Linked DNA regions of Homo sapiens. The protein of the gene in region 4 purifies or fractionates together with the protein of the main gene of each other region. This does not show direct contact. Each region holds a gene or a part of one and is shown on either strand. Other genes may lie near its edges. The genes, in order: PIP4K2C, CEP63, EXOC7, POC1B and TPM2.

Region 1 (6,654 bases), about 32 Mb from region 4:
TATCTTTAGTAGAGACAGGGTTTTGCCATGTTGGCCAGGATGGTCTCGAACTCCTGACCTCAGGTGATCTGCCCGCCTCGGCCTCCCAAAGTGTTGGGATTACAGGCGTGAGCCACAGCGCCTGGCCAAAATTCTTAATGTATCTACATCTTTTCCCCCAAGGACAAGGTTTATAATTTTCATTAAATTTTTGAAAATGCTGCAATCACAAAAAGGTAAAGAATTATATTTGCCAAGACTCTCATTTCTCCAAATATGGCTGTCCCAAATAGTACTCCTCAGTTGCTGGGGAGAAAGGGCTACCCTCACCCCTTAATGGACTCTCACCAAGTAATCTTGGTCATCAATGCCAAATCGATCACGGAGGTTCCTGAAGACCTGGGGACAATACTCCTTGAACTTGAAATGACTGGGCAGATTTTCCCTGAAATTCAGGTTTTCAAAGTAAGAAAACAAACAATATTACATTTACATACACTTGGTAGTTTATAAAGTACCTTCAGACATATTACCTCATTTGATTCTCATAAAACCCTGTGAGGTCCTTTTTTTTTAATTTTTATTTGTTATTATTATTTTTTGAGACAGAGTCTCACTCTGTTGCCAGGTTGGACTGCAGTGGTGCAATCTCGGCTCACCACAACCTCCATCCCCCGGGTTCAAGCAATTCTCCTGCCTCAGCCTCCCAAGTAGCTGGGACTACAGGCATGCGCCACCATGCCTGGCTAATTTTTTGTATTTTTAGTAGAGATAGGGTTTTGCCATGTTTGCAGGCTGGTCTCGAACTCCTGACCTCAAGTGATCCACCCGCCTTGGCCTCCCAAACTGCTGGGATTACAGGCATGAGCCACCACGCCTGGCCCTTGTGAGGTCCTATAAAAACATATTATTTCCATTTTATAGAAGAGGAGACTGTCTCAGAGTGATTCAGTGACCTGCCTAAGTAACATGGTTGGTAAGTGGTATAGTAGAGCCAGGATCTACTACCCATCCAAACAGCAGCATTTCCCAAATCTCAAGCAAGTCAGAAGCATTCTAAAGTCAGCAACAGACACCACTGTTTTGAATGGCATCTTCTTTTCCTAGGAGGGCTTAGTAGAGAATTCAAGTTTTTCTTTCAAGGAGTCCCTGTCAGAAGCTAATGGTTCTCATGGCATCTCCAAGGTCACAAGCAGAAAAAGAGAGAAAGAGCAGGTAATGGTATCTGTACATATTTACTCTATGGAATTGCCAGGCTAGAGGAGAGATAACACTGATTCATATAAGGATATAGGGAACACCAGAAATTATTCTCATGGTTTCCTTGCACAAAACTAATTTCTGCATTTGGGAAGGATGTTAAATTTTCAACTCACTGAAACTTTTAAAATTATTTATTACTCCTTTCTGGGAAGGTTGACATGAGAATGGCAAGGATCATCACTTACCTGTGGAAAAGGTGATTGTTGACCTTGATCTTGGAGCTGGCCTTAAAGTCATCTGGCAGCAGCATCACCGGGGGAGGCACCTGGCTGAGCTCATTGATCTGATAAGCCAAACCATGAATAGGGAAGCCATGAAGAAGGGTGTGGAGAGCTACCCATACACTGTGTCTGGGCAGCAGTCATGCAAGGGCCACTCAGACCTCATTCCTTTAAAAACACTGGCTATGCATATGCTTGACAGAAGTGAGAGAATGTGTCTAACCCTTCTGCTGCCCAAGAAGGACTACAGTAAGCAACCCTCACACACAGCCCCCAACACGCCCACCCCCATGGAACTTCATGCTCACAACAGTCATTTTATATTAGGCTAACCCTGTAAGCAACTCAGGACTATTTTTAAAGCTGTGAGAAATTCTAGAAAAAAAAAAAAAAAAAAAAAAAAAAAAAAAACTCTGCAAGCTCAAGGCAGCTACATGTTCCATTAGAAAAAGAAAAAAAAAGGCATTTTAAAAATGCACAAGAGTGTTAATGGGATTCTGTGGGGCCAACCACAGCAAAAAGGATAAATGTCCATATCCTGCAAAAGGCATCTCTTTGCAAACAGGACCAGTCTTCCTAGACCACTCTGACCCAGTTGTTTGCAGTAGGCCCCCACCTGTCTAAGGTGTAAGGTAAAGGAAGAGCAGCTGATTTCAGAGCGAATGCAGGCAATCAGAGGATATGAGCTCATTAGGCGTCTGTTCCCTAAAGCCAAACTAATCCACAGCCCAAAGGACACAAGCATCACATGCTCTCCTCGGCCCCCAGGATCTGCAGTCTGCTAATTCAGGGTAGAAAGGGAGCTCTAGTACTTAAAAATCCTGAGCCGTGCTTTCTCCTTGGTGTTGCTACAGTACCTTTCACCTGCCTTTGTTACTGCATGACTCTAATCACTAGTTTATGTAAGTTCTCCCATCTAGATTGTGAGCTCTTCAAGAACAAGGGCTCATTCTAGTCGTCTGCATCTTTCAGGTGTCTAACTAGCACAATGTTTGGCACACAGTGATCCTGACATGTCTATTAATTGAATAAATGAATGCCTTGCCTATCCTTACTAGATCATTCCACAGAGGCTATGAACTGCAGTCTAACCTAAATCACACACACTGCAGTGCAACCAACTCCTCCCGTTCTCAGTAGAAAAGGAGGACAGAACATATCCCTCCAGATTAAAAAAAAAAAAAAAGCCACTTGAGACTCCCAGCCTAAAATTCAGCTATAGCTCCTCCTGCCCCCTCCTCCCCACCTGCTAAGCAAGCTGAATCATCACTAAGACATATGTTCAAGGAATTTCTCCATTCCAAACACTTGAAGTAGATGTGTGTTGGCAGAGGGTGGGGTGCTGGGGCTAAAGTATATATACCTAGTGAAGCTGAGGTAGGTCTTACATGTAACTCCCCCAATCCTTAACAAGGGAAAACCCTCCCTGTTAAGCATCCCACAGGGAATGGATGAATCACCTGGAAGGTACATATGAGAGGCAGCCCTACCTCCATCAGCCTTCCCCATACCAAGTGCCTTCCACTGAATACTCACTAAGAGCTTACCACCCAGAGAGCCACAAATCCAAAAGAGATCCGACTGGCCACAAACAACATTCTTAATTTTTGGTTAAGAAATTCTTTACCACAAATTAAAAATGTGACAAAACGCGTATTCTTCCTCACAACTTCCATCTCCACAGCCTAGCCATGACTATATTCAAGAACGCTGATTTCGAAAATATTCCGTGTCACATTCAAGATAACTGCATTTCTCCCACTCCAGACCTGACGGAAGATGGGCAATGGCTGTGCTTCTTTCAGCTGAGGTATCCTCAGGAAAGGGGATGGAGGTCTCCTTGGCCTCCTCCTGACTCCCAGAGCAGTTTCCTGCTTCAAAAGTTCACCACCATAGTGACCTCAGGAACAGAGCCCCTCAGCCTTCTCTTTGGTCAACAATCGCCACCACCTACACCAAACACGATCGCTCTAGCCAGCGATAAGGATGCAGTTAAGACCAAAGGCATATATACATAAGTCCTGAGAGTGTGCAACTTCTAGCTCAGGGTGGGGTAGCTTCTCTAAAATGCTGTACCTCTGGAAGGGAAAGGAAGGGACAAGCAGGATTAGAAAGCCCAGGAAACCTGGAGCTTCCCCGAGACAAAACCAAGATTCAAAAGCCAAGGACCGGGGCTGGGAAGCAAGGTGGAAAGCAAAGTGAAAGAACCTTTTCATCCATCTACTCCCCTCGGCCCCTCACCCTCCACCTACACTCTCACCAACAACCACCCGAGAAAAAGCCACTCCCCCTAATGTCCTCCCCGCTTGCGCCCGGTCCTGGCCAGTCCGCGTAGCCTGAGGCTGAAGCTAGACATGGCAGGAAGGAGTCAAAGCACAGGGAGCTGGATTTCACGGGGGGAAGGTGGAACTAGAGTGGAGCAGTAAAGAACTGTTGGGGAGAAAAAAGTCCACAGTCAGAAAACCTGCTGGGGGAACACCTGGGGTTGGTGGGCAGGGACCAAGACAACCCGGGGGAGGGGAGTGGCACTGCGTGGGGCTCCGGAGGCTGGAGCCTGGAAACAGGGACGCCTCGGAGCCGAGGGGTTTGGACAGGGCTGCGGGGGTCTAGGGCTGGTTCTCACCGAGTGGGCTACGCCCCACAGGAACACACCCACCAGCGGGTCGGCCGCCCGGAACACCTTCACCTTCTGCTGCACGAAATGCTTCTTCTTGGTCTTGGAGGCGAAGCCGAAACCTGGGCCGGGGCCTGCTGTCGCCGCCGATACCGTGGCTGGTGGGACCGAGGAGGACGCCATAGTCTCCCGCGCAACCGACCAAGTGGAAGCCGGAGCCGGCAGCTATCCAGGCGCCCGACCCCGGAAGCGGCGCTCACCTGCGCTGCTGTCACGTGACCGGAGGCCGGACAGCGGACGCGCGAACAGGGCGAGGCAGGACGGGGCGGGGCGACGCTGGCCCCGCCCCCCGGCGCCTGCCTGCCTGCCCCAATGTCCGCTCAGTGTGTGGGCTCACCTGGCGTGCGGGATCCCTGTAAGCTGACGAAGCAAGCGGCCCGCGAGGCCCCTCGAACTGTCAACTAGGAGACCGTGGTGCGGCCTGGGCTGGCCTGATTGACTCCCAAGGTCTAGGGCTTCTTTGCTGCAAAGTGGCCGCCTTCCGGCTTTGCCCAGTTTCTAATGAGTAACCTCGGACCTGATGCTAATGCGAAAGCATTCTTACCGAATGGGGGTTGGGAAGGGGAGGGTTTTGGAAACCCAAAATTCTTACCAGTGGTCTCAAGCGTCTTGAAATTCATTCATTCATTTAACAAGTATTTATTGTGCACTTAGTTGTACTAGGTCCTGTTCTAGGGGCTGATTTTCCTTTTATTGAAGCAGGGTATAGGACAGTGACTGCCCCGAAGTAGTTGGGAGTCTAATGGCACTGGCTGGCCAATGGAGATCAAGTTTGCAGTATGCAAAGTATGAGCTATCCTAGAACTGTGTATGAAGCAAAGACAATGATACAAAGAAAGGAAGTGTAGCTGGTCAGGGAAGGCTTCAAAGAGGATAGAGACTTTACTGAGTTTGGAAGGGTGGGTGGAGTTCAGGAATAGAGGTTAAAAGGCTGTCTAGACAAAGAGAACAGCATACAAAGACATGGAGACAAGAAAGAACGAAGCCGGGCGCGGTGACTCACGCCTGTAATCCCAGCACTTTGGGAGGCCGAGGCGGGAGGATCACCTGAGGTTGGGAGTTCAAGACCAGCCTGGCCAACATGGTGAAACCTCGTCTCTACAAAAATACAAAAATTAGCCGGGCATTAGCCGGGCGTGGTGGCGTGAGCCTGTAATCCCAGCTACTCAGGAGGCTGAGGCAGGAGAATCACTTGAACCCAGGAGGCGGAGGTAGCAGTGAGCCGAGATCACGCCAAGCAGAGATCACGCCAAGCAGAGATCACGCCACTGCACTCCAGCCTGGGTGACAGAGTGAGACTCCATCTCAAAAAAAAAAAAAAAAAAGCCGGGCATGTTGGCAGGTGCCTGTAGTCCCAGCTACTTGAGAGGCTGAGGCAGGAGAATCGCTTGAACCCAGGAGGCAGAGGTTGCAGTGAGCCCAGATCATGCCATTGCACTCCAGCCTGGGCGACAGAGCAAGACTCTGTCTCAAAAAAAAAAAAAAAAAAAAAAAGCCAGATGCGGTAGCTCACGCCTATAATCCCAGCACTTTGCGGGGCCGAGTCGGGAGGATCACCTGAGGTCAGGAGTTGTGGGCAAAGGATTACCCAGGTGCCAAGGCAAGAGACTGAAGGCACAAACTGTTGCAGTATAATAAAGAAAATAGTTAGAATAAAGAGTAGTTACAATACAAATTAGATATAGAGATGATCATGGACAATTATCAATCATCAGTATAAACATTATAAATCATTAGCTTTTAATATTACTCTTTGTGGCATTACTAATATAACCTAGGAATAACCGGCAGGTATAGGGTCAGGTGCTGAAGGGACATTGTGAGAAGTGACCTAGAAGGCAAGAAGTGAGCCCTCTGTCACGCCCGCATAAGGGCCATTTGAGGGCTCCCTGGTCAAGCGGTAACACCAGTGCCTGGGAAGGCACCTGTTGCTTAGCGGACCGCGAAAGGGAGTCTCCCTTTCCGTGGAGGAGTCAGGGAACACTCTGCTCCACCAGCTTCTTGTGGGAGGCTGGATATTATCTAGGCCTGCCTGCAGTCATCCAGAGGCCTAAACCCCTCCCTTTGGTGCTGTGCTTCAGTGGTCACGCTCCTTGTCCACTTTCATGTTCCTCCTGTACTCCTGGTTCCTCTTTGAAGTTCTTAGTAGATAGCGGTAGAAGAAATAGTGAAAATCTTAGTCTTTGATCTTTCTTATAAGTGCATAGAAGAAAATGCTGACGTATGCTGCCTTCCCTCTCTGCTTTGGCTACCTAAAAGGGAAGGGACCCCTATCCCATGATCACGTGATTTGCTTGACCTTATCAATCACTTGGACAACTCACCCCTCCTTACCCTGCCCCTTGTCTTGTATTCAATAAATACCAGTGCGCCTAGCCATTAGGGGCCACTATCGGTCTCCGCGTCTTGGTGGCAGTGGTCCCCAGGCCTAGCTGTTTTCTCTTTATCTCTTTGTCTTGTGTCTTTATTTCTTACAATCTCTCGTCTCCGCACACAGGGAGAACACCCGCTAAGCCC
Region 2 (5,912 bases), on a different chromosome or scaffold from region 4:
TTCAACCCCATTTGCCCATAAGAAGTAGAATTTGGCTTTTTATAAACAGCTTCCTTTGTCTTTTTAGTCAATTTGTTATAGGCTGTTACCGTAAGAAATAAGCATTCGGTGAAAAGCCACTTGGCTTCAGCTCATACTATATGGCTTACATGTTTTCCTACCCAAAGCCTTTGCTGACACCCTCACCTCCACTCCTACACCCACCCAATCCCCTAGTTAGGTTAGGTGCCTTCTTATGTGCACAGCACTTCTCCTGTCCCAGCACTAACCACACTAGATTACTCTGGCAGCTTGTTTGTCTTTCTTGCTATACCATAAGTGTGTGAGGGCAGGGACTTGGTAGTTGGAATTGGATATTTGGGGCCTGAATGAATGAAAGAAATCTCTTTCTGATCTGAGTAGGTTGCTCATTTTGTAAATTGTAGCCTTATTAGTTAGGCTATTAAGCAAATTTCCTACATTTCTGTTGGAAAGAGAAAAGTTGCTACAATTTTTTATTTGTTTTGTTTTCTAATCTACCATCCAGGCCAACCCATGGCCAGCACAGACATGATGGAATAAAGACTGAGCACTACAAAACAGATCTTCATTCTCCAAGAGGACAAGCGTCGGATAGTATAAACCCCATGTCTAGGGTGCTAAGCCCCCTGAGTCCTCAAATCAGCCCTTGCAGCTCCACCAGGTCTTTGACTTCCTACTCTCTATGTAAAACTCATTCTTTGCCTTCAGCGCTAGATACAAATGAAGCCAATTTTTCTGACACTATGTCTGAGAGTATGAATGACCAAGAAGAGTTTATATCTTCGGTATGGAAACTTTCTGATCTTAGTAATTTGTTAGTTTTTTAAGTTTGCTTTGATTTTTTATTTTAAGGGTGAAGAAGGTGATTTTTTTTTCCTTACTGATTCTTTTATCATAAGTACTCTTCATTATTCTTAGGTATCCCTGTCATACAGTTTTTGCTTGTGAAGACACTTTCGGCCAAGACTACTTTTCAAAATGTTCTGAAATATGTTATACGTATTCATTTGTCTTTAACCCTTATTGGAAATTCCCTTCTTGCCCTTTTCAGTGATGCTCAATTTTCTTCTGGAATGGTTAGTTCAAGAACTGTCTCTGGATGCCAAGATAGTCCTGAGGCACAGGCAGTGAAGGAGGAAAAGAGGAACTGCTGGAAAGGAGAAAGGGAGTGTGGAGGGGGAGGAAGGCTGTGCCTCTGATGTGTGCAGAGCATGGCTTGGGGGTCACAGATGGTGGCCCTCAGGGCAGAATGTGCCTTGGACACCATGCCGGTCCCTTGCTCCTTCCATTGCTGGGCAGGCTGCACCATCTTTTTGCCTTCTGCACCAAAGCACTTGCCATGGGCCCTTCATTTCCTGTCACCAGCTGTGGCCATATAGATGTGAAAGTGCAGTATTTCTGACTTATTAATGTGCTACCAAGTCCATGGAAAGGTTTTCTTTTATTTTTCAAAATAAGTCCTCACTTCACTTTCTTCCTAAGTTTAGCAGCAAAATTTTTTTGGCACCAGAACTTTCCCTGGCCTGAACTGATGTGTTAGTATGTATAGACTTTCTCTATTCCACTTAGTGTGAGTATCCATGTGTTTTGCTTCAGAAATATCAGTGTGTTTGGTGATGGGATGTTCCCTCAGACTCCACTGGGGTAATACAGTTGATCCTCATTATTCACAGATTTTGTATTTGTGAATTTGTCTACTCCCTAAACTTTATCTGTAACTCCCAAATCAGTATGCGCAGCACTTCCACAGTAATTCGTGGACATATGCAGAGTGACAAAAAATTTGAGTGACCGACTTGCACAATCCCAGCCAAGGTCGAAGTAGGCAGCACTCTGCCTTGTTGCCCCTGCTTATGCGGAGGTGACCATAGGGTGGAGATGGACGGGACAGCGCAGTGTAGGGAAAGAAGCTCAGCTCCATGCCAGCTGGATAGAGTCTGAATCCCAGCTTCAGCACCAGTTAGTGGGGCAGCCTCAGGAGAGTTACCACTTCTGAACCTCATGTCTCTCATGTGAAATAAAAAATACAGAATCTACCAGAATGATTTGTTCTAGGATTTAGGATTATGCTCTCTGTGTGGGGTATGTGTGTATGTGTGTGTGTGTGTATTTGTTGTATGTGTGTATTTTCCCTGGGCCAAAAATTCTGTGTTTGCTAATTCAGTGTTTTGGGTGACTTTATAGAACACAACTACTGCTATTGTGAATGAGTATTGACTGCATATGGCATATGTTCTATGTTACCTTTCTAAAATCAGAATTCTGAAATATCACTAGCCTCAAGGGTTTCAGATAAGGGACTGTGGACTGAAAATTTGGAGGAGAAAAAATAATTGATTTTAGCTGGCATCTAATTTATTTTTGTTAAATTTTTGTGCTTTAAAATAAAAGTGACATACTTAGGTTTTTAAAGTGAGTTTGAAATAATAGGCATTAACTATGGAAGCATATATAAGTCTAAATTGAAACATTCTTCAGACCAATAACTAATATATGATACTTTACATTGTTACAATTTGGGTCAGAAACGGAGAGATCTGTGTTAATTTTTGCAGAACTTACTGATTTTTGTTCTTTTATTGCTCTTGTCATTAGGATGAAAACCAAAAAAGTATCTTCAGAGGAAAAAAATCACCTTTTAATATTGCTAGTTAGAAAATGTCATGAACAGTGTATCTTAGAAATATAATATTCTACTTATTTACACATGTCAAAATTTGTGTCTCTTCCAGTGTTCCTTGCCTGTATCTCCCCTTGGTTCAATAGCTACCAGATTTTTGGAAGAGGAGGAACTGAGGTCTCATCACATTCTAGAGCGCTTGGATGCCCATATTGAAGAACTAAAAAGAGAGAGTGAAAAGACAGTGAGACAATTCACAGCCTTAAAGTAGCCTCTTAAAAAAATCACTATCTTGGAAATAAAAATAAACACCAAAGAGTTACTGTCATCTGAAGTAGCAGCTCTTTAAAAACATGAAGAGATAAAATTATAAAAATGATACATCTAAAGCAGTGGTGAAGAAAGCTGAAAAACTGATACTTTTGATAGGCATTTTCTCTGCACTGGTTTGTTTAAAGGACTTCTTCCAGCAATAAGTTGAAAGAATAAACCACTTTGCTAGACTTTTTTCTCATACGAATATTTATTATCATAAAGTGATACTTACCTTGCTGACTTAAATGTGAATAGCTATGTACTAATTGAAATAAGGATTTTATGATACATGTTGAAAATAAAGTAACTGCAGGAACTTTCTTTAGGGGAAATGTGTAGAAGCATGGATTTAGGGGTCAAACATACCTGGATCGATAGACTGGTTTTGCCACTTACCAGCCAACGGGGCTTGTTATTTACTGGGCTGGTAGCCCCTCCTAGCCAAGGGGCTGGTAGTGTGTAAAGTCAGGCTGGTAGTGAATAAGGGGGGGGTGTGCTAAAGAACCTTATCAAGCAGTCCTCTCTTGCTCAACACTCATGCAGAGGAGAGAGGCAGGGAGGGCAAGGGACTGGCTGTCATGCACGGTGCCCATGGAATATCCATTGGAAATAAATGTTCATCGTCTGCACTGCTGAGGACAAGTTTAGATGGGAGACAAAGATCTGGATGTTGATGTGCCGCAGGCATTTGAAACGATGGGAGTTGATAAGATCCACCAGGGAGGCTGTGGAGAGAGAGAGGAGCAGGAGGCTGGGTTTGGGGCCCTGAAAGATGCCAGCATCTGAGGATCACAGGAAATAGATCTAGCAAAGGAACTAGAATGTGCAGTTACAGATGAGAAAGGTCAGTGTAGTGTACTTGCCAGCTCAAGGGTGTGGCCTCTGTGAACCCTCTTTCTGTAGTGGATCTTTCCCATCAGCGTAAAACATCCTGTTATTTCCCCTTTTTAAATAAAACCTCAGTTTTTTTTAATGCCTCTCTTTTACTGCTCTGTATGTTTGCTTCCCTTCACCCAAACACTTCTGGAAAGAGTTGTCTGCAGTGACTCTTTCCAGTTCCTCACCCCGCCCCACCGTAGTTCTCTTCCTAACCCTCTCCAACACCACTTCCATCCCCAGACTGCTTTCTTGCTCTTGAGTTCACCAGTGACCTAATCAGTGTCTGAGCATCATTCAGCACAGTTGGACTCTCTCTTGGCTTCTGTGACCTGGAACTTCTGGTTTCCTCTCTACCTCATCCTCCACTCCATCTCATGGCTTTTCCTCTTCTAACCTCTAAGTCAGAGGGCCCCCTAGAGCTCTGTCATGGGTTTTCTCCCTCAGCATTCTCTTCCCTAGAAGTTTCCATTCCATTCTCAAGCTCTTAATACCACCTATAGGCCAGTGACCCTTACATTTATTACTAATCTTGACCTCTCCCCAGAGCTGCTGTCTTAGATACCTAGCTGCTTATGCGATGTCTTCACTTGGATATCTGACAAACATCTTGTTTCCAAGAGAGAACTCTTTATTCTCCCTCTTGCTAAGATTCCATATCAGGACATAGCATTATGTTTGCCAGTTCCTAGGAGTTACTTATAATTCCTTCCTTACCCACATCCGCATATCCAGTCATTTGGGAGGTCCTGTCATTTCTTCCCCCAGAATCTTATCTCAGACCCAACCGTTTCCCTCCTGCACTTCTACCACCTGATCCAGACTACTTCTCTCTCACCCTGATTCTGGCAGTAGCCTCCTAACTGATAGTACTCACACCAGTAATTCAGGGAGCTTCTGGAGTTATCCTTTAGAAATGTAAATGAAACAGTGTCACCACTGCTTCCCTTCAGACTCTTCCAAGGCTTCTCTTTTTTTTTTTATTGAGACAGAGTCTCACTCTGTCGCCCAAGCTGCAGTACAGTGGCAGGATCTCGGCTCTCTGCAACCTCCACCTCCCGGGCTCAAGTGATTCTCCTGCCTTAGCTTCCCGAGTAGCTGGGATTACAGGCGCATGCCACCAGGCCCAGCTAATTTTTGTATTTTTAGTAGGAACAGGGTTTCACCATGTTGGTCAGGCTGATCTCGAACTCCTGACCTCAAGTGATCCACCCGCCTGAGCTTCCCAAAGTGCTGGGTTATAAGCGTGAGCCACTGCACCCAGCCCCAAGGCTTCTTACTGCACTCAGAATAAAATCCAAATGAATTAGTATAGCCTACAGAGTGTCAATAATCTGGGCCTAATCACCCATTGCATCATCCTTTACTGTGCTCCACCCATGCTGGCGTCCTTTCTGTTTATTGAGTGCAGCAAGCTTTAACCTGTTCGGGTCTTTCATTTGCAGTTTACCCTGAATATTCCCTTTCTCTTACCTCACCTTTGATTGGCGTTTTCCCCCTTGCAGACCTGCACTCTGGCATCCTCTCCTGAGCAAGCCTTCTTTGATTGCTGCCTCCCAAACCTGTTTCTCCCCATTTCTCTAGCTCATTGGCCTGTGTTACTTGCTTCATAGTGCTCACTACTATCTGAAATCATTTCATTACTTGATTTATGTTTGTACTGTCTATTTCTGTCTTTAGAATTAAAACTCCTTGAGGGCAAGGACTTTGCTTCTCTGGTTCATGGTGGGATCCTCATCACCCAGCACAAGCCCAACACTTAGGAGAGGCTCAGCTAGTTTGAACCAATGGAAAATGCCATTCCTGAGGTGCACCACATCGTTTCTTTTGTGTTGGTGTGCATGCTGTCCTTCAGTTTGTCTCCTCTTCCCACACCCTGTCATGTGCTCCTAAAACTCCCCCTTTACTTGGCTACTTTATCTGGCTTGGCAAAGCTTTCCCATATCCCCTGACCCATGTCAGGGAACGTTTCTCCTCATTGCTGTCATGGCACCCTGTGTGTGGCTCTGACCAGACTTTGCTATCCGCTTTGATTTCTGTCTTTCAGGGGCTAAGTCCTGCCTACATCCTCAGTCAGCAT
Region 3 (6,175 bases), on a different chromosome or scaffold from region 4:
GCGGGGCCTGGGGGGCAGGTGGAGGGCCGCTGCTGTTTTCTCTCACTCATTTCCTAGGTCTTCTTATCTCCTCTCTGTGTGGCTCTGGTGACAGGGACGATCCGTAAGGCTCAGAACCTTCTGAAACAGTATTCCCAGCATGGTCTAGATGGGAAAAAGGGGGGCTCTAACCTCATTCCTCTGGAAGGTAATCACCCTGTGTTCCCCTCCTGTCCCTTCCTCCTCCACTGTGTGTCCACGCACTTGGCAGGGCAGAGCCTCCCCCAGGAGGGCCTCGGGAGAAACCCTGAGGGGAGCAGGGTGGGAACGGCAGGTCCCCGATGCCACTCGGGCTTCAGCGGGCACAGGGACAGTTTCGCAGCCCTCGGCCTGGTCCTCTCTGGCTGATGGCAGCTCTGCCCTCCCTGAGGCTTCCCTCCTCCCTTCCCTGTCTCTGTCCTTGTCTCCTGTGTGAACTCAGAAAAAGTTATTTGTCTTGGGGCAGCCCTTTCACGCTCAGACCAGCAGTGGCAGGCCCCAGCTGGCCGAGGCCTCCCGGCCTTCCCATCTTTAGAAAGGGGAGTGTGTGCAGCAGAGGACAGGCAAACTGGGGCTTTCCCCAAATACAGCGAGGTGGGGAACCCCCCTGGGGCCAAGCATCAGCTCTTCAGCCCCTCCTTGGTCCTTCTCCGCTTTCCCTGGGCCTCCAGGCTCGGGGAAATGAGCAGCTAAGGACGGTCCTGGGTGCTCACTGAAGTCAGGCTTGAAACGGCTGTTCCCAAGGTGGCTTGAGGTAGAGGAGGGGCTCAGGGCCCTCTCCGATGCCCCCTTCCCCATCCCCATCTGACGTCCCCCTCCTGGAGATGAAGGGCTTCTTCCCTGTACCCCAAGGGGCGGCCTGCCTGGCCCCTGGATAAACGCTGCTTGTGTTTGTGCGGCCGACATCTCGCCAGGTCACGAGCATGATTTCCGAGTTAAGCACCTGTCCGAGGCCTTGAACGACAAGCACGGGCCGCTGGCCGGTGAGTACCGCAGCCCAGCCCGAGGGCAGCCGCTGACACTGCCTTCGCAGCGGTCCCCGGATGGCCTGCTCCTGCCTGGCCCAGCTGGGCCCACTCTGCTCTGAGGATGGGCCAGGCCTATGCGCCTCTCTCTCCACTCTCTCTCTTTTGGGCCTAGGTCTCCTTGCCTCTCTCCAGATGGGAGTGCGTGCCTGTCTGTCAGGCCTGGGCCAAGGGGAGAAGCCGCTGCTCCTCGGAAAGCAGGCAGAGAGGGAAGGTGGCTCCCTTGAGGGCAGGGAGCCCTGACGTCCGCCTCCTGCAACAATTCAGAGCTCTGATCCCCTCGGAGCCCATCCCTTGGCACATAGGACCAGGCAGTTCTGCCGCCGGTTTTGCCTGCAGGCGCCCCCGCCGTGGCCTCCAGTAATAGGGTCTGGCCTCCTCCTGGGGCAGCTGGCAACCCCTCCTCTCTGGGACTTACCAGCCTCTTAGATTTTGACCCCATGCCAGCCAGCCTCAGAAGCTGCAGCCAACCACCCTCTTAGATGTTCCAGAAGCCCTGACTGGGCTGGTCACTTCCTTCACAGGCCCCGCATTTGCCCACATGGATGACCCCAGTGCCAGCCTCCTTGAGGTGGCACAGCCACCTGCCCACCCTGGGCTGCCCTCTTTCAGGTACAACTCAGAATGCTCAGTCCTGGGGTCAAACCACCTTATCCAGGACGCTGATTCAGGAATCTTCCCTCCTTATCTTTCCATCCGTCACTCTCCTGCCTCTGGTGTCTGATCCCACTGTCTGCGCAGAGCCGAGAATGAAGCCAGAACAAAGGCTGGGCTCAGCTCCTTTTATTCCCCTCGAACCTGGCGGGGCCTGCTGGCTCCCTTGCAGCTTTCTGCCAGAACAGTCAGCCTCTTCCCCATCCTCTGCCAGTGTGGGGTACAGGCCAGGAGCTGGGGGACCCACGCCGCCCCCAGCCAGGAGTGTGGCTGGCCCCAGACCAGCAGCTCAAGAGTTGTGCCATCCCCCAGGGAGAGATGACATGCTGGACGTGGAGACCGATGCCTACATCCACTGCGTCAGTGCCTTCGTCAAGCTGGCGCAGAGCGAGTACCAGCTGCTGGCCGACATCATCCCCGAGCACCACCAGAAGAAGACCTTCGACTCCCTGATACAGGTCCCGCCCCGCCCCGGGGGCTCTGCAGCCAGCCCCAGCAAGAGCTGTCACAACAGACTCTTGCAGCCCTCAACTCCACCCACCACCACCACCTCGTGCCCTGGGGACCGGTCCTGGGTGGACGCTCACCACCTCCCCGTCACCCCTCTTCCTGCACACTGGCCCCCCTACATACTGCAAGGATCCCCCACTAGCCCAGAACTAGCTCCCACCGCCCCACCCTTCCCTGAACTGTCTCCCTGCCCCCTCAGGATGCCCTGGATGGGCTGATGCTTGAAGGGGAGAACATCGTGTCTGCTGCCCGGAAGGCCATTGTGCGACACGACTTCTCCACGGTGCTCACCGTCTTCCCCATCCTGCGACACCTCAAGCAGACCAAGCCTGAGTTTGACCAGGTGCTCCAGGTATGTGGGCGAGGGGCCCTCAAAAACACAGCCAGGAGGCATCGTGCTGCCGGGTGTGGCCGCCCCATCCCTCCCTGGGAGAACCCCATTCTCTGTCCCACACTTCTGCTCTGAAGGTGCATGGAAGCAGCTTAGGAAGGGCCCTGGGTGAGTGAGATGCTCACAGAGCGACTGGAGGTGAGCTGGGGGCTCCCCTGTGCTTCCTCAGGGCACGGCTGCCAGCACAAAGAACAAGCTGCCTGGCCTCATCACATCCATGGAGACCATCGGTGCCAAAGCGCTGGAGGACTTCGCAGACAACATCAAGGTCCCTGCTGTCCTCCCCTTTCTCCCTCCCTCCCGGCCCAGCACCACAGTGACCTGGCCCTGGGGGACTCTCAGAGCAGGCCTCCAAGAGGGTGCGTTGTCCCGGGGCAGCCAGCTGCGCCACTGGCCTGTCAGCACCCATGTGCCTTCCTTTCCTTCCTGGGGCCTCCAAGCCCTCTGAAGTGGGAAGGGCCTCTCCCCCTTGGTCCAGCCTGGCTCAGCCTTTGTGCCTGAGAGGTGTCCTAGCACCCGTCTGCCAGGAGGCGGCACCATGAGCAGGTGCACTGGGGCATGGGGTGGGCTGGGGGCTGCTTCAGGGAACCAGAGGCTGTTTTTCCACAGAATGACCCGGACAAGGAGTACAACATGCCGAAGGACGGCACCGTACACGAGCTCACCAGCAATGTGGGTGCTGCCTGAGGACACCAGGGAGAGGGGAGGAAGGAGGGCCCAGGCCCAGGCCCAGGGCCAGGCAGAGTACTGGTGGAAGGGACTCAGCCTGGCCCAGAGCCGCTCGCACCTTTGTGAGCAGTCCTGGGTGGCAGGATGGACAGTGACATGTTTAGTGTCTCTAGCAGACAGGGCCTTTCCTGGCAGGCTAGAGTGAAAATGAAGTTTCCAGCCGCGCTCTTCACTGGGCGGATCCCAGCCCTGGGCTGGCCCTGGGCACTCAGAGGGGTCGCTGTGGGAGGCCGTCGGCCGGGCCTGCCACTTGCCCTTCTGCACCGTTTTCTTCCCACCCAGGCCATCCTCTTCCTGCAGCAGCTTTTGGACTTCCAGGAGACGGCAGGCGCCATGCTGGCCTCCCAAGGTACTGGTACCTCCCAGTTGGGCCCCCTGCCCCACTCGCCTCCTTGCCTGGAGACATGGGGTTAGAGGGCAGGTAGCAGTGAGGAGGTATCTCCAGTCTGTGGAGGGGTTGAGGTGTGCTCAGCAGAGGGTCCCTGGGGCTGAGCATCAGGAGAGCAAGGTTTGCCTGCACCTTTCAAGACCAGACACTGGACCTCTGGCCCCTCCCTCAGCCCCTTTGACCGTCCTCGCCCTGGAAGCAGTGTCCTCACTCTGGGAGCGGTGCTGGTTGGTTGGAAGGTGTCCTTTCTGCCCCTGCCCCCCTCCCAAATCCTTCTCTCGTGTCTGCCTGCTCTCCTAATCAGGCTCGCTCAGCTGGCCTTCAGAGGGTAGCAAGTGTCTCAGGGCCCGCTGGGCGTCTTCCTGCTGGCCCTGCCCTGGGACTGGAGCTCAGGGGGTTGGCCTGTAAGCAAGAGCACCTTTCTGGGTCATTCCAAGCACTGAGGTCCCTGGGCCCTCTCCTCCCGTCCCATTTTGGGGGCAAGGAGCCTGTGGGCAGCCTCCAGCCTGCAGTTCTCAGCTCTCTACTTTCCAGGGTGTTCCCTGGTCCTCAGAGGGTCCCGCCTGCTGTGTCTTGCTATCTGTGTTTTGGCTGTCGTGGGGAGAGGTCTGCTTAATTCGGGTTGACATGCCGTTTCTAACCTGTTTTTTGCACTTTGCATCTTTCTCCCTCCTTTGTCTCTCCCTCTGTCCCCTCTGTGTGCACTGCCTTTCACTCCGTAGTTCTTGGGGACACATACAATATTCCTTTAGACCCCCGAGGTAAGCAGTGCGGTTCTGCAGCCCCCTCCTGTCCCTCTGAAGCTTGGTGGGTGAGGTTCCCTGGGGACTGACTCTCAGTACCTACTGGGGAGCCTGAGTCAGAGGGGACATGAGTTTTCTCGGGGTGCTCTCAACTCTCTCTGCTCCCTTCAAGGCCACTCTGTCTCTGAGCTTATCCGCAGCACCTGCCCAGGCTAGAGCCCTGGATACACCCCCTAGGCTCGCCCGGCCTCCCTGCCTTGCTGTCCCCACTCGGCCTTCCCCACTGTGCAGGCCGCAGCTTCGTCTGTTCAGTAGGGTCTGGTAGAGGGGATGTTCGAATGTAGGGGAGAAGGTGGAGAGGCTGTGGGGAGCCCATTCTAAGACTCTGCTGTTGACAAAAGGAAAAAGGGGGCCTTGTAGAAACCACCCAGGGTGGGTGGGGGCAGGAGGGGACAGGGCGCTGGCATCTCACTCTTTTCCTGCCAGCTTTTCTGCTGACATGGGCCAGCTCCATCCCATCATAGAGGGCAGCTCTGGGTTCCAAAAACTCCAGGGCTGGTGCTTCCTGCGGCAGGGGCCACCCTGTGGCTTAGCAGGCAGCCAGCTCTGCCCAAGGAAGCCCAGGGCCTGTCTCAGTGTCCCCTCAGACTGCTGCATGGCCTGGGGGAAGGGCCGTTGAGGGTCTTGGCTGCTGCCACTGCAATAACAGGACTTCTCCTCTCACAGAGACCAGCTCTTCGGCCACCAGCTACAGCTCTGAGTTCAGCAAGCGGCTGCTAAGCACCTATATCTGTGAGTGTTCTCCCGGGCAGACCAGCAGCCCTGCTGCCTGCATGCCCTGCCTTTCCCTTCCTTCTGTCTGTGCTCTCTGGCTATTCCCAGGGCCCTCTCCTAAGTGCCATCTGATCTTTGGAACCACAACCTGACCTCTAGTTCAGAGGCTGAGGGGAGTTGGGCTAAGGCCTCCTGAGGCAGGACGAGGAGCGATGGATAGGAGCGCGTTCGCGGGTCCTGGGGTGGGGTCGTTTGGGTCAGACTGCCATGGTGGGTGTGGCCCCATTTTTCCCTGTGCAGGTAAAGTGCTGGGCAACCTGCAGTTGAACTTGCTGAGCAAGTCCAAGGTGTACGAGGACCCAGCTCTGAGCGCCATCTTCCTGCACAACAACTACAATTACATCCTCAAGTCCCTGGAGAAGTAAGTGGCCTGCGGGAGTGAGTCTGCGGCTCTCACCTTCCCCTCGGCTGTGCAGCTGTGCCAGCCCCTGCCCCCCTGGGCTCCTTCTCTTGTGGACGAGAGGGGAGGGGGTGCTTCAGTCTCCTCCACCCCAGGACCCGGAAGGTGGGATGCCATAGAGCTTGTGGAGTTTGGGGTGCAATGGGAGGCCCTCCCGGCATTGCCGCAGCCTTTGGGCCTGAGGAGCCAATCCTGTCCTCCTCTCCTCTGTCCCCTACCCCGACCCAGGTCTGAACTGATCCAGCTGGTGGCAGTGACACAGAAGACTGCTGAGCGCTCCTACCGGGAGCACATTGAGCAGCAGATCCAGACCTACCAGCGCAGGTGAGAGGCTGGGCCCGCCCTGCTCCTGCATGGGCCCCTGTGCCACCACGCACTCTTCCTTCTCAGCACCTCAGGACACAGAGTCGGTCACGGGGAACTCCTGTCCTCTGGACCCTAATCCTCCACTTGGTTTCTAATCAAACTCACGGGGTGGAGAGA
Region 4 (6,175 bases):
AGATACCCCAGTGCCTTATTAGCAATAGGTTGTAAACAAGAGCACTGTTTCCACAACAACAAAACTCTATATGGCTCACTAAAACGAGTATTTTGGCATCACATAGCTCTAAGCTTCCAGTTAGAGAGCCAGAATAACTTTAAAAATGAGACTGTGTCACGGAAAGGTAATCTTATTGACCACATTACTATAAATTCTTTGGATATATTGCCAATAAAACTGACAGTTAATCATCACCAGCTCAGATAGGGTATATAACCTAGTCTCAAATTAAAGGTAATAACTAATTAGTGGCTTGGGATTAAAGGGAGAAAAGTGTGGAGACAGTTTGAAACGGGCACAGTCCTGCCATCATGCTTGAGACTTTGTCTCCAGACAGTATCCTTCCAACAGGAGGCAGTATAACACAATGATCAAAAGTTAATTTTTCTATGCACTGTGTAAGCAGGAAGACCTAAGTAGTTCTATTGATTCTTTGAGCAAGTTAATTACCCTATTTAAATCTCAATTTCCTTATCTTAAAAATGTGAGTAATAATGATACCTCCTAGGAATATTGTTTAGATTTGGCACAGTGTCTGCTACATAGTAAACACTGGAAAAGCTACTATGTTTAATAATCATTTCGATTTAATATAAATCCAATATAAACCAAGAAAATTCACTTCTCTTTTAGTTCAATATCAATACATAGGCATAGTAGGTAGTTGTTTTCTACCAGTTATAACACCTATTTGTGCTCACGTAACTCCCTGTGATTCAGAATTCAGTCATTTCTATCCTGACTTCTCACACAATGCTGATAACCAGAATTTGAAAATCTCATAGCAACTTCTTTTTTTTTCTTTAAACCAGCCCTCACATCATTTTTAAGGTCTCTTCACTTCCTGCTGTCCTTGAGCTTCTGAGACCCTGCTGTTGATGGGAGCTAATTATACTATTCTCTAGCCTGTTCCAAGGCAGCCCATGACCCCAAGTAAGACAGCCAAACCACACCAACAAGGAGAATCAGTCCTTCCAAAAGGAGTCCATTCGGTAACTGAATTTTTTGTTAGGAAAATTGTTACCTTGGTAATGCTGTAGTAATTTGTTCACTCTTACATCCCAGACTTTCACAGTTTGATCAGAACCTGCTGAAGCTATGCATGTACCACTAGGGTTAAAGTCCACAAAATTTGCAAATCTAGGAGGAAAGAATAAGATGACCTAATATTTCAATTTCTTTTTTTTTTTTTTTTGAGACGGAATCTCACTCTTGTCACCCAGGCTGGAGTGCAGTGGCGCAATGTCAGCTCACCGCAACCTCCGCCTCCTGGGTTCAAGTGATTCTTCCACCTCAGCCTCCCGAGTAGCTGGAATTACAGGCACATATCACCATGCCCAGGTAATTTTTGTATTTTTAGTGGAGACAGGGTTTCACTATGTTGGTCAGGCTGGTCTCAAACTCCTGACCTCAGGTGATCCGCCTGCCTCAGCCTCCCGAAGTGCTGGCATTACAGGCGTGAGCCACTGCACCCGGCCATATTTCAATTTCTTTACTCATTTATTTATTTAAATTGTTATAATCAAACGTCTCCTTAGAAAACTAACCCACATAAATGCACAAAGAAAGTGTACTTACCCAACGGAATCTGAGAAGTTATTAACACATTGCTTATTTGTGGTATCCCAAATTTTAATAGTTTTATCCTCACTACATGACACAATTAGTCTTCCATCGGGTGAAAATCTAGAAAGAAGAAGAAAGAAGATGTTTTATGTGAAAGGCTCTGGAGAGTCACCACCTCACCTCTACACCACAAATAAACCAGGCTGTAAATATTAAATACCAGAGACCACTGTTACCATCCCATGCAGTAAAGTCATATTCTGCAGCCAAGATCTTCATCATGACAAACAACACTGACAGACCATTAAAAGGTCAAAATATGCTATGTAGACTAACCAAGTTGCTTTTTTCCTTTTATTCTTTTATTAAAATAATTTTGGTTTTATTGCATCTGCTTTGGGGTTTTGATTCAATTCTGTACTCACTCTAAGCCAAGTGCCTTGTATTTTTAAAAGAACTCTCTTCTATTTCTGTCACTTGCCAGCATTATCCATATGATTCAAGAGAGAGCCTTTATTACTCATCCGACCAAGCTTGCAGTGAAACTTTTTGTAAGAAAAGGAATGGTGTGTTGAGAATTAAAATTAAGTGACATCACCAACAAAAGAACCTAACTGCCCATGCCTGTAACTTCCTGGACTTGGGGAGGCCAGAGAGCTCCAATGGACTGAAAATAGGACAATTCATTTATACAGAACAGAACAGAAGTTCCTTCATGGAGAAATCTATCATCCACACGCCCCATTAAAAAGCAAATGAGAAAAATCTCAGACATCTTGTCTGCTGTTTTATGCTGTCTATTCCTTTAATATCCTTCCCAAGGTTCTTTTTTTATTGTTTGGCCACAATGCCTTTTAAATATAAACAGAAAAGCAGAAGACCACAGAGAAAATAAAAACAAATTTTAGACTATTAGAAAACTATGAATAGTATTTTTATTATTAATATTTTCACAGTAACAAAAACCAAAAAAGACAGATTTGGGTCACAGACTATATTTCAATTTTATTTGTAGTTTCCCTCTATGCCCACAGTAAAGATTACTATGAGTCATCAATTAAGGGTGTGGAATATAATTGAAGATTTTTCTTTTTGTTCTCTCCCTACTCCCATTCTTAAGGCTGACCTAAAATTAATTCTTTGTGACAGAAACTTTGCATCTGGCGTTCACAGATTCACACAGAAAAAAGGCACAAAGAAGTTCCATGTGAAATAATATTTAAAAATCAAGAAGTCTGGGTGCAGTGGCTCATGCCCGTAATCCCAGCACTTTGGGAGGCTGAGGCAGGCGGATCACCTGAGGTCAGGAGTTCGAGACCAGCCTGGCCAACAGGGTGAAACCCTGCCTCCACTAAAATAGCCAGGCATAGTGGCAGGTGCCTGTAATCCCAGCTACTCAGGAGGCTGAGGCAGGAAAACCACCTGAACCCAGGAGGCAGAGGTTGCAGTAAGCTGCGATTGTGCCACTGCACTCCAGCTTGGGCGACAGAGCAAGACTCGCCTCAGAAAAGAAAAAAAAAAAAAAAAAAAAGTCAAGAAAATAACCTTTCAAGGAAAAATTTTCCATGCTGGGTAGTTTACCCTGATTTTACAGTAAGTAAAAATTTATTAATATTTTCTTTCAGAAAATGTGAGAAAGATTCAAATCTGAAGGGCAGTATTATAAAAAGGCTCCAAACAGAGGAAGCTTATTATATATAGAACCTGGGGAAAAAAACCTACTCAGTATCCCCACGGATAAACTTGGCATAATAATTATAAAAAACTGGCCAGGCGCGGTGGCTCATGCCTGTAATCCCAGCAGTTTGGGAGGCCGAGGCAGGCGGATCACCTGAGGTCAGGAGTTTGAGACCAGCCTGGACAACATGGTGAAACCCCATGTCTACTAAAAAATACAAAAATTAGTGGGGCATGGTGGCAGGTGCCTGTAATCCCAGCTACTTAGGAAGCTGAGGCAGGAGAATTGCTCGAACCCGGGAGGCAGAGGTTGCAGTGAGCCGAGATTGCACCACTGCACTCTAGCCTGGGTTACAGAGTAAGACTCTGTCTCAAAAGGAAAAAAAAAAAACCTGTAAAAAACTAATGCAAGGGATCAAATTGTCTTACTTACTAAGCTTCTTTTTAAAAAATATTACTTAATGTGACTATGTTAAGTGACCAAAATATTTCTATGAGAGGACTTAACTCTTACATTTCAAGAAAGCAATTATGGAGAAAAATATTTAATAAAATGAAATGCTTAGATAATAACAAAATATAGAAGTACTTACCCTATGACATCAACCAAATACTACCACCACCATCACATCATTATCCTACCCACATTCCTTGAGCACATGTGTCCTAGAACGGTTATTAACACATTACATGTAGCAACTCATTTAATTTTCAGCATAACCCAGTAAAACAGGTGCTACTGCTTGTCTCAATTTACAGTGAAGAAACAGAGGCACATAAAGGATAAGTAACTGCCAGTGTTATCAGGTCAGTGGGGAGAGGGGTCTGGATTTGAATCAGGCAGTTGTTTCCACAGCCAAATCTCTGAACCACTCTGCTTAAGTCTGACAAAAAGGAAAGTGTCTTCTACTGGCCCAAATTACTTAGAGCACTGGAAGTTCTGTGTGGCTTCTGTGTAAACAACAGAAGGTTCTAAAGTGGAGAGGAACCACGAGGCAGTGCTGTTAGGAGGCTATACACCATCCTTGAATAAACATCTGTGTGTGTTGCCATAAGCTGTAGGTAAAACAGACATGGTCCCTGTCCTTGTGGAGTTTGTGGGAAAAATTTTCACCCACTGATTCATTCAAAGATTCCCTGAGCACTTGTCAGTACCTGGCACTGGGCACTGCTGTGGGTAGTAGGAATATAGCTGTGAATGAGACTGGCAAGATCCCTGCCCTTATGAGGCTTTTGTTCTAGGGAGAAGGGAGGGCACACAAAAAACATAATTTTAGAAAGTGATAGGAAAAAGGGTTGTTAACAAAACAGGTGCCAATTTGTTACCAGAAGCTCCATAGAGGAAACAGGATTTTAAAGAAACTTGCAAATGAGGAAAAGTGTTATCTTGGTCAGCTAAAAGTGCCTCCTGAGCAGGAGGGCCCATAGCTGGGAGAAATTTCCCAGAGCAAAATAAATGAAGGGATGTGAACCTCGAATGAGTTAAAGTACAGGCAGTGGCTGGGAAGAACCTGGTGCCAGAAGGAGGCGAGGTTTCTACCATCAACTTAACAGAAACTAAAGGGGACTGAGGTTAAGGCCTTCCCCCTGCTCTGGTCACTGCATTATAATCCTGCATATGCTCTCTGTATGTGTTTTTTTGCATTTGAGGTGGCTGAAAGTGAGAATGATGATTTCTATTTCCTCCTCCTCCCTTTTATTTTTAATTAGATACATCAAAAATAGGTTAGCACCAATAAAACAGGCTTCTCTTTGCCTTGACTTTGATTAGGAAAGGTTAGTCCTTTATCGTCAGGGCTCAAATAACATCTAACTAGACTTTTAAGAATTTAAAGAGGATATAAAATTTCTACTAAGACATTAATAGATTTCTGACTCTCTTAATTTAGTACCACCCAACTGCCTTTAAAAACGTCTACAAAGTGTGTCACCAAGATGAATATTACATTAGTCAATAGTGACTACTGGATCAGCAAACATGGACATTCGAGAGTTTAAGAGGCATATGAGAAGTTAGCTGAACTACTACTGAATTCCTTAAACTTTACTGGTATTCACTCAAAAGAATGAGGGAATTCTTTTTTTTTTTTTTTTTTTTTTTTGAGACAGGGTCACCCAGGCTGGAAAGCAGTGGTGCAATCTCGGCTTATTTCAGCCTCGACCTCCAGGGCTCAGGTGATCATCCCACCTTAGCCTCCCAAATAACTGGGATTACAGGCTTGTGCCACCTTGCACGGCGAAGTTTTGTAATTTTTGTAGAGACAGGGTTTCGCCATGTTGCCCAGGCTGGTCTTGAACCCCTGGGCTCAAGCAATCCTCCTGCCTTCACCTCCCAAAGTGCTAGAATTACAGGCATGATCCACTGTGCCCAGCCCAGAATGAGGAAATTCTTGAACTTATTTCTAGTAAAACTGATTCACATGTCCTTGAAAATAGCCCAAATTATATAACAGGAGTCTTTTTAACTTGGAATCTACAGAGTTCCTGTAATTGTATGTAAAAATTTTATGTCTATATTCATAGTCATAGTTACTTGTTCATTACAGAACCAAAAACGTCCATGAACCATGAAAAGTCTTAAAGTGCTTTCATAAGGCCACGTGTGGTGGCTCATGCCTGTAATCCCAGCACTCTGGGAGGCTGAGGCAGGCAGATCATTGAGGCCATCAGTTTGAGACAAGCCTAGGCAATATGGTGAATCCCCATCTCTGCTAAAAATGCAAAAATTAGCTGGGCCTGGTGGTGCATGCCTGTAATCCCAGCTACTTGGGAGGCTAAGGCAAGAGAATCAGGGAGGCGGAGGCTGCAGTGAGCCAAGATCGCACCACTGCACTCCAGCCTGGGTGACAAAGTGAGACTGTCTCAATAGATAGATAGATAGATAGATAGA
Region 5 (4,922 bases), on a different chromosome or scaffold from region 4:
AGTGAACCAGTGCTCCGTGGTGGCGATAGAGGTGCTCTCTGGAGGGCAGGAAAACAGCATGGAGACCAAGTTCAGAATTTATTAAGCAGCAAAGGAGGGTGGAAGGGGATAGGTAAAGGATGAAGCCAGTGCCAGAGTGGGTGGTGGGCATGATGGGGGCTCTCCCTAGGCTGCTCCCAGCCTGGCTGTGCAATGTTGGCAATTTCTGCTCCTCCTGCCTGCTCCCCTCCCCATAGAGAGAATGGAAAGGAGAGGAGAGAAGAGAGCTGAGGTGGCCACGCTGGCGTGGGGCTCAGAGGGAGGTGATGTCATTGAGTGCGTTGTCCAGTTCCTCGCTAATGGCCTTGTACTTCATCTTCTGGGCATAGACTTCATCTGGGGGGGGTCCAGGGAGGGGACCAGGTGGGAGTGTGGGAAAGGGAGTGGAGGGAAAGAGGAAAGGAAGGAGAGAGAGCAATGGAAAGAAAAACAGAATCAGAGGTACACAAAGACAGAGTGAGAGAGGGAGGCCAGGGAACAGGCTGGACAGCTGTCAGGAACTCCTTCTCCCCATCTCTACCCCATCTCTTTTCTGTCCTTCTCTGTACCCCAAATTGGCTCTACCCATGGCAGCTCCTGCCTCTCCAGGGAGCTGTGTGTACAATGCTCTCGACAAGCAGGAGTGCTTGCTTAGAGGGGAGAGGGAGGGTGCTGGAGCCAGAAAGGGCAAACCTCCTAAAGCTGGAGGTAAAATTGGAGCTTGCCTGAGAAGGCTGGAAGCGAGAGAAGTGGGAAAGTGAAAGGGTTATCACAGAATAAAAAGGAAAGGCAACTTTAGCCACATCATCATTAACAATAGAAATAGCCACAGACTCACAAATATCTGGATGTTTGCTTTTGTCAAATCTAGCTTAAAATAGTGTTTTCTATTAGTGCTGTCATGCAGACCTAGATGTTCAGTCCAACAGCTCTCTAGTTAATAAGCCAGTCTCTGCACTAGAACTCTACTGCGTTACACTCGGGGACGGAATTGTCTATAAGGGTGCCACTCAGAGTGTGGCATGAGGACCAGCAGCATTGGCAGTACCAGAGAACTAGCTAGAAATGTAAATCCTCCAGCCCAAAGTCAGCAATCTCTTTGGGGCAGAGTCAAGGAATCTGTTTTTAAAACTCTCCCAGTGATTCTCATGCATGCTGAAGTTTGAGAAGCACTGGAGTTGTTGCGCCGTGGGCAGCTACAATTACTTGAATTGTAGACATGGCCCACAGAGTTGGGGAGTTGGTAGGGTCCTAGGTGGCCCAACCCTAGTTTATTGGTGGCAAATAAAATGGGATGAGAAGGTACAGGACAGACTGATAATCACGGCAGGTGTGGACCTACTTATAAAGGCTTCTTTTACCTTCTAGGTCATCGATGGTTTTCTCCAACTTTGCCACAGACCTCTCGGCAAACTCTGCTCGGGTCTCAGCCTGGGGGTAAAGGCAGGATGGGAGAAATGGCAAAGAATTAGGCCCTCCCACAGACTACTGCCTAAGTCAAGCTTCTTGTCCATCCCAACCCTCAAGTGTCCTGCCACAGGCCGTCTCTGGCAAGGATTAGGGTGGCTTGAGGGGAGACTGGGAACTGGAAGAGGACTCTCACCTCCTTCAGCTTCTCCTCCAACAGTTTGATCTCCTCTTCATATTTATCTTCTTTGGTGGAATACTTTTGGGGACACACACACGCCATCAGTACAGCGCTACCACAGATCCTTCATTTCTCCATTGTACCCCGTAGGCTCCTGGTCATCTTGCCTCCGTTGAACACCCAGCCCCTCCCTGCCTTGGGCCCCTCACCTCCCTCCCCTGTGGGACCCCATCCTCACTGCCCCTCTGCTCCCCTCTACCTTGTCCGCCTGGGCCTCCAGGGATTTCAAGTTGTTGGTAACAATTTTCAGCTCCTCCTCTAGGTCCCCACATTTACTGCAGGGGGTGTGTGGCGGGGGGGGCAGGGTGTGAGGGCACAGCGAAGCCAGACAGTGGAGATGGCACAGCAGGGGACGGGTGGAGGAGAGAAGAGAAGAGCAAAGTTGTGAGAGTGACAGCAGGCAGGGCTCAGAAGCCCCAGGCCCTTCCTGATCCCCAGCAGCTGAGAAAGAGCAGCCTGCGGTGCTGAGACGGAGGGAAGGTGAGCTGAGAGAAGGCGCCATTGCCCAGAAAGGTTCAGAGGGGTCACTACCTCCTCCTCTGAGGCCATCAGGGACTTGAGGGCCTGGTCCATGGTTCGAAGTTCCTCCTCCAGCTGTCTGGCTCGGCTGGGGGCAGCGGGCAGGGGTCAGAGAACAGGGCCTGTCCCTACAGCCCCAAGCCTAGGATGCTACCTTCCCACTGTGTGGAAGGCCCCAGGGCCAATGGGCTCACTTGTCACCCCCGGGTATCTTTACCTCTCGGCCACCTCAGCCCTCTCCTCCGAGCGCTCCAGCTCTCCTTCCAGGATCACCAGCTTCCTGGCCACCTGTGGGGAGTGAGAAAGAGAGGGTAGATCAGTGGAGAAGGACTGGGCATGTTGCAGGCTGGGCAGCGAGCAGGCAGAGGGGCAAGGCTGTCACCTCTTCATATTTGCGGTCTGAATCCTCAGCGATGTGCTTGGCCTCCTTCAGCTGCATCTCCTGCAGTTCCATCTTCTCCTCATCCTTCATGGCCCGGTTTTCGATGACCTTCATTCCTCTGAAAGGCAGGGAGAGGGTGAGCGTAGGGTCAGGACCAGCAGAGACAGGCTCCCTTCTCCCTCCCGGACCATCCTCCCCGAGGCCCCTGACCACCTCTCGCTCTCATCAGCCGCCTTCTCGGCCTCCTCCAGCTTCTGCAGGGCTGTAGCCAGGCGCTCCTGGGCCCGGTCCAGCTCCTCCTCAACCAGCTGAATGCGGCGGTTCAGGGAGGCCACATCTGCCTCAGCCTGTGGGTCAGAGGTCAGGGGTCAAAAAGGCCTTGTTAGCCTTGGATAAGGATCAGAGAGGCTCCAGAGGATGGCGAGATTCTTCTCAGAAAGAACTGAGGCTTCCTGGTTTCTAGACATTCTATGTGATTTTTCCCCAACCAATCATCTTCTGCCCAGACTGTGCTCCAGTAAAAAATGTGCATTCAGGCCGGGCATGGTGGCTCACGCCTGTAATCCCCGCACTCTGGGAGGCCGAGGCGGGTGGATCACCTGAGGTGAGGAGTTTGAGAGCAGCCTGGCCAACATGGTGAAACTCTGTCTCTATTAAAAATAAAAAATTAGCCAGGCATGGTGGCGCATGCCTGTAATCCCAGCTACTTGGGAGGCTGAGGCACAAGAATCACTTGAACCCAGGAGGCGGAGGTTGCAGTGAGCTGAGGTCGTGCCACTGCACTCCAGCCTGGGTAAAAAGAACGAAACTCCATCTCAAAAAAACAAAAAAATACATGCATTCCTTGCTTGACAAGCTCCGCTCCCCTGCTGCAGGGCCTCTCCTGCACTGTGCACAGTTAGTCTCCCAAAGGTCACCTGCACACAAGTCCTCCTGTTCCCTGTGGGAGCACTTCAAGTGCTGGGGCCAGGTCTGATGCAGCTCTGATTCCTACACAGCAAAGCCTGGCCCAGGTAAGGGGATGGGAGGAGAATCAGGCCAACCAGACATCACTGCTGCTAAGAATAGCCCGTCACAGAATCAAGCTCAGTGATACTGGGCATGGTGGTGCATGCCTGTCATCCCAGCTACTCCGAAGGCTAAGGCGGGAGTTCAGCTTGACCCCAGGAGCCCTGCCTGGGAAACATAGCAAGATCCCATCTCAAAAAAAAAAAAAAAAAAAAGTATCAAGTTCAGTGATGTCATCTGTCATCAGCTGTAAGGCAGACTCCCAGCAAGAAGCCCAAGAGGCAGGCCTATAAGGAATACCCATGGCTGTAGCAAGGGGCTCCCTGCCAAGGCCAGCAGAGAGCTGGGGGCAATGCAGGGGCAGTGTGAGGGATGTCTACTCAGCCCCTGGGCTTGCAGTAGGAGGCAAAACCATGGAGGTTTTGGAAAAAATCCATAAAAACTGGTCAAACACTGAGAAAAAGGGCAGAGCAAGGCGAGCGCCAGTAAAGGAAAATGAGAGGAGCAGGGCAGCCACGTGTTAAGAGCATCGGCTCTGAGTCAGATTGTCTTTGAGCCACGGCTCAGCCACTCAACACCTGTGTAACTGTGGGCAACTTATTTAGCCTCTCTAAGCTTCAGTTTCCTCCTTCACAAGTTGGAGTTAACAATAACAGTTCCTCCTTCTTAAGGCTGTTCTGAGATAATCCACTGCTTTTAATACTCAGTTAATCAACAGGACCTTCGGTGAGACTCATAAAACTAAACAGGTTCTCTTACTCCATGCTAGATCCACTGAATTGGGATGTGTAGGGCGGGGGCTTGGGAATCTTCTCTTTTTTTTTTAAAGCCCCCGAGTGATTCTGATGATAAGCCAAGTTTGGGAAATTGTAAAATAACATGCAGAAAGCACTGAGTACATTGCCTGCACAGGGTCCACATTCCATAAATATTAGGTTATCCCCTTTCTCTGTCAAAAACAAGGACACAGAGACCCTGAGATTTCAGAGTGGAAAGGAGAGAGGACCTGTGTAGGGAAAGGAGGTGGGGGGAGGGGCTGGGGGCAGCACTTGGACACAGCATAGGAAGCAGGTCCTTGGTCGGACTGTAGGGCAGGAGAAACAGCACCATATATAGAGAGTAGATGGTAGCTTGTCTTCCAGGTGCTGAAGGCACCTGGAGCTTGGCCACCTAGAGTGACAAGAGCCCATCATGGGCACAGGGCCGGATGACAGTGTGGAAGCATTCTGGGGACAGCATTGGGGGTTGGGAAGAATCACTGTGGGGGACATTGGAGTACTACCCTAGAGAGAGGTGAGACTGTAAAAGAAAAACTCTGCATGATGGTGGGGTGACAAAAGACTCTGG

The links.
Region 1: the proteins of POC1B (region 4) and PIP4K2C purify together in Homo sapiens (affinity purification with mass spectrometry; 2 studies listed by BioGRID and IntAct, with this or other methods). This does not show direct contact.
Region 2: the proteins of POC1B (region 4) and CEP63 purify together in Homo sapiens (co-immunoprecipitation; one large-scale study listed by IntAct). This does not show direct contact.
Region 3: the proteins of POC1B (region 4) and EXOC7 purify together in Homo sapiens (affinity purification with mass spectrometry; 2 studies listed by BioGRID and IntAct, with this or other methods). This does not show direct contact.
Region 5: the proteins of POC1B (region 4) and TPM2 purify together in Homo sapiens (affinity purification with mass spectrometry; one large-scale study listed by BioGRID and IntAct). This does not show direct contact.

The regions. Positions count from the first base shown.
Region 1 is NC_000012.12:57,588,896-57,595,549, reverse strand, and holds the start of PIP4K2C (phosphatidylinositol 5-phosphate 4-kinase type-2 gamma), read right to left. Parts: upstream 4,359-6,654; 5' UTR 4,261-4,358; coding exon 4,087-4,260; intron 3,331-4,086; exon of another isoform or gene 3,233-3,330; intron 1,526-3,232; coding exon 1,428-1,525; intron 425-1,427; coding exon 328-424; intron 1-327. UniProt on the Homo sapiens protein: Phosphatidylinositol 5-phosphate 4-kinase with low enzymatic activity. May be a GTP sensor, has higher GTP-dependent kinase activity than ATP-dependent kinase activity. PIP4Ks negatively regulate insulin signaling through a catalytic-independent mechanism.
Region 2 is NC_000003.12:134,558,624-134,564,535, forward strand, and holds part of CEP63 (centrosomal protein of 63 kDa), read left to right. Parts: intron 1-526; coding exon 527-806; intron 807-2,753; coding exon 2,754-2,912; 3' UTR 2,913-5,912. UniProt on the Homo sapiens protein: Required for normal spindle assembly.
Region 3 is NC_000017.11:76,085,155-76,091,329, reverse strand, and holds part of EXOC7 (exocyst complex component 7), read left to right. Parts: intron 1-94; coding exon 95-187; intron 188-848; coding exon of another isoform or gene 849-1,001; intron 1,002-1,158; coding exon of another isoform or gene 1,159-1,286; exon of another isoform or gene 1,287-1,588; coding exon of another isoform or gene 1,589-1,655; intron 1,656-2,009; coding exon 2,010-2,155; intron 2,156-2,406; coding exon 2,407-2,559; intron 2,560-2,767; coding exon 2,768-2,866; intron 2,867-3,207; coding exon 3,208-3,270; intron 3,271-3,609; coding exon 3,610-3,676; intron 3,677-4,437; coding exon of another isoform or gene 4,438-4,476; intron 4,477-5,184; coding exon 5,185-5,250; intron 5,251-5,532; coding exon 5,533-5,653; intron 5,654-5,920; coding exon 5,921-6,016; intron 6,017-6,175. UniProt on the Homo sapiens protein: Component of the exocyst complex involved in the docking of exocytic vesicles with fusion sites on the plasma membrane.
Region 4 is NC_000012.12:89,470,548-89,476,722, forward strand, and holds part of POC1B (POC1 centriolar protein homolog B), read right to left. Parts: intron 1,729-6,175; coding exon 1,621-1,728; intron 1,183-1,620; coding exon 1,067-1,182; intron 1-1,066. Other genes in the region: POC1B-DUSP6 readthrough, read right to left, coding at 1,067-1,182, 1,621-1,728.
Region 5 is NC_000009.12:35,682,867-35,687,788, forward strand, and holds the end of TPM2 (tropomyosin beta chain), read right to left. Parts: intron 2,915-4,922; coding exon 2,781-2,914; intron 2,686-2,780; coding exon 2,568-2,685; intron 2,474-2,567; coding exon 2,403-2,473; intron 2,274-2,402; coding exon of another isoform or gene 1,942-2,273; coding exon 1,866-1,941; intron 1,685-1,865; coding exon 1,622-1,684; intron 1,450-1,621; coding exon 1,380-1,449; intron 376-1,379; coding exon 293-375; 3' UTR 66-292; downstream 1-65. UniProt on the Homo sapiens protein: Binds to actin filaments in muscle and non-muscle cells. Plays a central role, in association with the troponin complex, in the calcium dependent regulation of vertebrate striated muscle contraction.